2 linked regions of the Homo sapiens genome follow. The protein of the gene in region 1 interacts with the protein of each later gene in a pairwise test. Each region holds a gene or a part of one and is shown in the gene's direction. Other genes may lie near its edges.

Region 1 (3,500 bases):
AGCTGGTTAAGAGAAGGCTTCAACTGGGGCCAAGAGAAGGTGATTGAAGGGCGGGGGAAAGAGCAATTTCAGAGACAGAGTTGGAGAGAAAAAGACAAAAAGATAAACGCACATCCTTCATGGCTCCACGAGCGCAGAGACAGAGGTAGAAGAGAAGGCGCCCTGCTTCCAGGAGGGGGCACGCAGAGGGTTGTGTGTCTGTATGTGAAAGGGGTGACTAGGCTGGGCTGGCAGCTCCACTGGAAAGAGTGTGTTCATCGGAGAAGGGGTGAGTGTGTGGTGCCTCCAGACTTGATGCAGTTGTGTGTGCCCAGCATCTCCCTGGGCCTCTGCTCATGTACAGAATTCCAGTGTGTGCAACAAAGAGTCAGTGTGAGGAGTGAGGAGGGATTTTGTAGTGCTGCTGACGCTGTGGCTGGCGTTTGGTGAAGCCTGCTGGTGGCATGTCTGTAGTCCAACAGGGGTTATTTGAGTGGCATGTAGGTGAACAAGACAGCACAAAGTACCCTTTTTGGAAACTACAGCTGGGCTTCCCCAGACTTCATTTTCACCCCATGAATCTGTCCTAGGGACCTGGGGAAGTGGGAAGGAACCACCCTCCCCACATGAATGTACTTCTGGCAGAGAACCCTACAACTCAGCCTCTTGGGACTTGATTTTCTCAGGTTCTGGGAGAGGCAAGTAAAGGAGATGGAGTGGAGAGGGAGAGGAGAGAGAATGGTAGTGGGGATAATGCTAGAGCTAGTACCCAGTCCCCAGTGACGTCCCCCTTGCGCCCCTGTGCCATGGACACACTGAGATCAAGGTCAGGGTTCAAAGTGAGATTAAGGTAGGGAAGTGGTCAGGCCGGGCTCCATCTTCGAAGGCCATGCTGAAGGAGGGGGCTGAAAGGAGAAATCCAAGGGAGGAGCCAGAGCCAGGGCAGGTAGCTGGGGAGGGTGCGGCTAGCCTGGAAGGACAGGCCTGGGCAGGGAAGTGGCAGGAGGAGGGAGGAGGGGAAGGCTTGGGGGTGGGTTGCTATGCGGCTTTAATGGGGGTGGGGCATGCAGCACCTAGTGGTAGCAGAGAGGAAGACATAGGGGAGACGAAGAGATCCAGGAGTCTGGGAAACCTTCCAGAGTGGGAGAGTAGCAGAAGGATGAGAGAGTGTCCTCTCTCATTTCTCCGACCTGCTGTCCCTTTTTGGCTGGGAGCATCTAGTGGAGAGGGTTTAGAGGCTTAAATCTGATGCCAAAGGCATACTCACATTGAGTTTGTGCATCTCATCACCCTCTCCCTTATTCTATGGATGACACACACACATTCTCTCTCACACATAGACTAAGAGAGGTGGCCCTTGAAGAGGTCTGGCACTTCTCCCTGGGGCTGGCTCTTGGATCTTATTGCTGGGTCCCTGGCACCTTGGGGACATCCTTGTTGAGAAGTGAAGTCTTGCTCTACTTCCTGGGGCTGTCTCGGGGTCTGAAGGGGGGTGAGACAGGCATCTCAGAACTGTCTGGTGGTGGAGGGGAGGCTCAGGGAGCACGTGCTGCTGAGGCAAGCACAGGCCTGTGCTCATGGAAAGCAGAGGGGTGTGTGTACGTGTGTGTGCGTGCGTGTGTGTTCATGCATGTGCATGAAACCTCAGGTGTCTGTGTCCCTATGTATCTCTATGTTTGTGAATCTTAGTGTGTTCTAGATTTGCTTTCTATAGGGAACAGAGTGTGATGAAAGAGAAGGGAAGCCTTGCCGTCCTCCCACCCCTGAGCAGATAGCTGTGGTCCTGATGACCTAGCCCAATTTGTCCTCTGAACCTGGTGATGCTGCCCTGGCCATGGGGCCACTGTCCCTGGGGCAAGGAGCCCAGATTTCACCACACTAAGTCACCACACATGGAGAAACTGAGGACAGGTTGGCACAGAGAAAGTCTTGCTTAAAAGAAACTGAAAAAGAGAGACTCACAGACAAGACAAGGGACAGCTACCCAGGCCCAAAGGTGCAGACACAGAGAAGCCAGGCACTGGGAGAAGCAAGGAGAACAAGCAGGCGGGTAAGGGCAGTGAGGCCTCCTCCAGGAAAAAACCCCAGTCGACTGCCTCTTTTCCCCTCCCCTCCCCGGTCTCTCCTCCTCCGGCACAGGCTCCAGCTCCAGGCCGACACAAACGGGGCTTTGATTGCAACAGGAAACCTCTTGGGCGGGGGGGGGGCGGGGGGAGCCGGGCAAGCCGCCGCCGCCAGGGCCCAGGCTGCACCCCCCTCTCCTGGCCCCCTACCCGGTCCCAGCCCCCATCCTGCCCAACGCGCCTCACATCCCTGCTTTGGGCCCCACTCTCATTCACACCTCGCTATTCTTCTGCTCTTCTGCTGCCCCCTCCTCCAGAGACCCCCCTCCCATTGCCCTTCAGGTGGGACTCCTACCTCAGGACTTACCCTTCTGGCAGGGCCTGCTTTACTTTGAAATGCCCCCTTTTCAGCTTTTCGAGGGAAGGTTTTAGAAAAAAGGGAGAATTTAGCGTGAGGAATTCAGAGCCAGTTATCCTCAAGCCCCATCCAGAAGGTGGCAAGGAGGGAAAGGCAGGGTGCATGAGGAGTTAGCTGTCCCTGCCCTGCCTCGTCCTGGCCAAACTCATCCTTGCCAGGGTGGCAGGGACTCTAAGGGGTGACCCCGAAAGAATCTGAGTGCTAATGGCTTTGTTAGTTGGGAAGGGGTACTCTCCTCTTTGCCTCTAGGGCTATGCCTTTGTGGGGCTCTAGCTGGGAGGGGGGTATGCCCTGGTGGTGGGGATCATAGGGAAGGGGGTGAGTCAGGCAGCAGCCCCCCTTCATACTCCCACCAGGATGGTGGAGAACATCTGGTTCCCATGAAATGCTAGAAGGCTAATGGGTCTAATTGCTGCAATAAGGGCTGGGGAAACTTTGGGGAAAAGAGGGGGCACTAGATCCCCCACCCTCTTACCTTCTCCCCAAGGCTGTACTAAGTCTGTCTAGAATGGGGGGGTCAGGGTTGATGGGGAGGGCGGGCCTGACACCGTAATGCCTGGTCCTAAGGACCCCCTCCATGCAATGCCTGGGATGCACACACAGATGGGGTGATGAGTGGGGTGCATCTGGTGAAGAGAAACGGGGGCTATTGAGGACTCATGGCTTCCTGGAGCCCTCCCCCAACTCCTCCTGTGCCCTCCTCCCAACCCCCCTCCCTGTGGCCTGGCCACTTCTGGTTCTAATTACCAACCAGGCAGGCCTGACTTAATTGGGACCTTTCAGATTTCTGAGGGGGAAGGGGGGTACTGACAGCTTGAAGTTGACTAATCAAGGCTCTTTCCCTCTTGTTTTCGGGGTACTCCCTATTTTGCACTTAACTGTTTTTGTTGTTGTTTGCTGCTGGTCAGATTCTGATTCAGAAAGTTCTTTCTTTCTCTCTCTCTCTCTCTCTTTCTTTCTCCTCCTTTCTCTTTCTTCCTTTTTCTTTCTTCTTTCTTTCTCTTTCTTTTCTTTCTCTCTCTTTCTTTCTTTTTTTTGTG
Region 2 (3,500 bases), on another chromosome or scaffold:
CAACAGCTACACGCAGCCATGAGCCAGGCGCCGGTGAAAGAGAACATCCCCTACTCCTGGGCCAGCTTAGCCTGCGTGAAGGCCCACCACTACGCGGCCCTGGCCCACTACTTCACTGCCATCCTCCTCATCGACCACCAGGGTAAGGCCTGGGGGGTTCGGGAGTTTGGCGAGGGCTGTGGTCCAGCTGCCCCAGGGGCGATTCTGAGCTGAGTGAGAGCTAACTGCCTTCCCTGGAGATGCTCACAGGCTGAAGGCAGAGGATGGGAGTGACCCATGACTGAGGCAGCTGCCGCACAGGCCATGGTGGGGTTAGGGGTTATAAGCTTCTTTAGAGGGAGGAAGAAGAGGCACCTTTAATTCTGCCTGGGTGCAAGAGGATGAATTTTCACCTGGAATCTAGAATCTAAGGGAAGGCCAAAAATGCTGGCATCAAGATAAGTAACATTTTAAGGTAATATTTTAAAAGAATCAAAATTAATGCAGGCCAGGTGCTGTGGCTCATGCCTGTAATCTCAGCACTTTGGGAGGCCAAGGCAGGCAGATCATTTGAGGTCAGGAGTTTGAGACCAGCCTGGCCAACATGGTGAAACCCTGTCTCTACTAAAAATACAAAAATTAGCAGGGCATGGCACGTGCCTCTAATCCTAGCTACTCGGGTGACTGAGGCAGGAGAATGGCTTGAGCCAGGGAGGTGGAGGTTGCAGTGAGCCGAGATTGTGCCACTGCACTCCAGCCTGGGTGACAGAGCAAGACTCCATCTCAAAAAAACTAATAATAATAAAATAAAAATTAATGCAAAAAAAATCTGTGATGATCGGAATTTTATTTTATTTTATTATTTTATTTATTTTATTTTATTGTTAGAGATGGGGCTGGAGTGCAGTGGTATGATCATGGCTCACTGCCTTCTTGAACTCCTGGGCTCAAGCGATCCTCCCAATTCAGCCTCCCAAATAGCTGGGAATACAGGCACATGCCACTACACCAGTTAATTAAAAAAAATTTTTTTTTTATAGAGATGGAGTCTCACTATGTTGCCTAAGTTGGTTTCAAACTCTTGGCCTCAAGCAGTTGTCCTGCCTTGGCCTCCCCAAAGTGTTGGGATTACAGGCATGAGCCATGGTGCCTGGCCAGGGATTTTTGATCTAATGAGTACTAATCCAGGCAGCCTCCCAAGGAATTAAAAAGACAGCCTCTGGAGCCAGACTTCCTGGGTTCATATCTCAGCTCTTCCATGAATGAGCTGTTTTACCTTGGGCAAGTTACTTAGCTGTCCTCTGCCTCAATTTTCTCATCTGTAAAATGGGTATATGGAGAGAACCTGCCTCACAGGCTGTCATGAAAACGAAAACGAAGGGCCTGTACGCAAAGCTCAATAATGCTTTATATACTGTAGGTTCTCTGAAAGTGTGAGCCGCCACTCCTAGTACTATATAGTCTATTAGGTGAGACAAGATGTGAAAACAAATAGAAATACCATATAGTGCCTCGGTGATTGCTGTAGAGACACAAATGCAGCAGCAGGTGGACTCCATGGTACAGTCATGGATGGCTTCTTAGAGGCAGTGACATTTGAGTTCAACTTTTCCATCTGCACAGGAGGGAAGGGTCAGCCTAGAGGGAGTAAAGTGTCTGAGCACAGAACAGAGGCGGAGGGTGCTGGGGAAGTGGAGAGTGGTTTTGTGAGGTTTGAGAGCAGGATGCGCGCCACGAAGGGTGTGGTTGAAGCAGGAAGGGGCTCTGCTGCAGGTGTGCAGGCCCGCAGAGGGGTGCAGGCCGGGCATGACAGGGTCTGGGCTATGCCAGGAGGTTCTGTGTGGTGGGTGAGTTGGAGGAGGTAGCGTGTGGGGGCTCAGGGTCAAATTACAAACCTTGCCGGGTGTGGTGGCTCACGCCTATAATCCCAGCACTTTGGGAGGCCGAAATCGGTGTGGATCACGAGGTCAGGACCAGCCTGGCCAAGATGCTGAAACCCCATCTCTACTAAAAATACAAAAATTAGCCGGGCATGGTGGCATGTGCCTGTAATCCCAGCTACTCGGGAGGCTGAGGCAGGAGAATCGCTTGAACCCGGGAGGTGGAGGTTGCAGTGAGCCAAGATCACACCACTGCACCCAAGCCTGGGTGACAGAGCGAAACTCCATCTCAAAAAAAAAAAAAAAAATTATGAACCTCTGGAGTGTGACTGGTCCCAGTGAGCAAGAGCTTTGGGGTAGCCAGGCATAGTGGCTCACACATTTGATCCCAGCACTTTGGGAGGCTAAGGCAGGAGGATCGTTTGAACCCAGGGGTTTGAGACCAGCCTGGGCAATGTAGCAAGACCTTGTCTTTACAAAAAAATTTAAAAATTAGCCTGGCATGTGGTGGTGCATGTCTGTAGTCCTAACTACTCAGGAGGTGAGGTGGGAGGATCACTTGAGCCCAGGAGTTCAAGGCGGCAGTGAACTATGATTGTGCCATTGCACTCCAGCCTGGTAACAGAGTGAGACCGTCTCAAAGAAAAGAAAACCTTGAGGGTTAGACGGCCTGGGGTGTGTCCGGGGGCAGAAAGGAGACCCATGATCCCAAATGCCTTGTGAAACTGCAGAAAAAAGGAAGCTGGAGACATGGTAGAGAAATCTCTACGTGGGTCTGTGGCCAGGTCCATGAGAGGGGATTTAACCTGTGGTTCTCTTTGCAGTGAAGCCAGGCACGGATCTGGACCACCAGGAGAAGTGCCTGTCCCAGCTCTACGACCACATGCCAGAGGGGCTGACACCCTTGGCCACACTGAAGAATGATCAGCAGCGCCGACAGCTGGGTGCGTGTCCCCCTGCACCCAGATGTGGGCCCCACTTGGTGCCCAGCTGGTCCTGCTCACAGCCAGCCACAGAGAGGTCCCTGAAGAGGGCCCGGGAGAGGGGGGTGTTCCGAGTCATCGTGGCCACTTTGGGTTCAGAAGTCATGAGGCGCGGTCCTGAGCCTCAGAGGGCTTCCCAGGCTGTGTTCTCATGGGTTCCATAGCACCCAGGCCTCCCACTGTGGAGCCAGGACTTTAACCATCTCCCTTGGGGTCCACAGGGTGGCATGTGTCACGCTAACAGGGAAGGAGACGTTTGTTGATTTCCTTATGCATGGCTGAATTACCAAGAACACCTAATGACTGGTAATGCAGTGTCCTGGTTTGGTCTCTGCCATGTCTCAGTGTGAATATCTCTTCCCATGTGCAGACCTCACCTCCACCACCCTAACCTGCCCCTCTGCGCACCACCCATGCACACATACGCAGCTTCTCCGTCTCAGTGATGGCAACTCCCACCCCTCTAGGTGCTCAGGCCAGAAACCTTGGACTCACTCTCCACGCTTCTTTTCTTTCCTCCTCTTTCCCATCCCCTCCCCTCTGCTCCCCTCCCCTCTCCTCCCCTCTGTTCCCCTCCCTTCCCCTCCTCTCCTGTTCTCTCCTCTCCTCTTCCCTCCCCTGTTACCCTCCGCTCCCCTTCTCTCTCCTCCTCTCTTCT

What was found.
Region 2: the proteins of RARG (region 1) and RHPN2 interact in a two-hybrid assay, tested with the Homo sapiens proteins (one large-scale study listed by BioGRID and IntAct).

What each region holds. Positions count from the first base shown.
Region 1 is NC_000012.12:53,222,210-53,225,709, reverse strand, and holds part of RARG (retinoic acid receptor gamma), read left to right. Parts: intron 1-3,500.
Region 2 is NC_000019.10:32,998,889-33,002,388, reverse strand, and holds part of RHPN2 (rhophilin-2), read left to right. Parts: coding exon 1-142; intron 143-2,683; coding exon 2,684-2,803; intron 2,804-3,500. UniProt on the Homo sapiens protein: Binds specifically to GTP-Rho. May function in a Rho pathway to limit stress fiber formation and/or increase the turnover of F-actin structures in the absence of high levels of RhoA activity.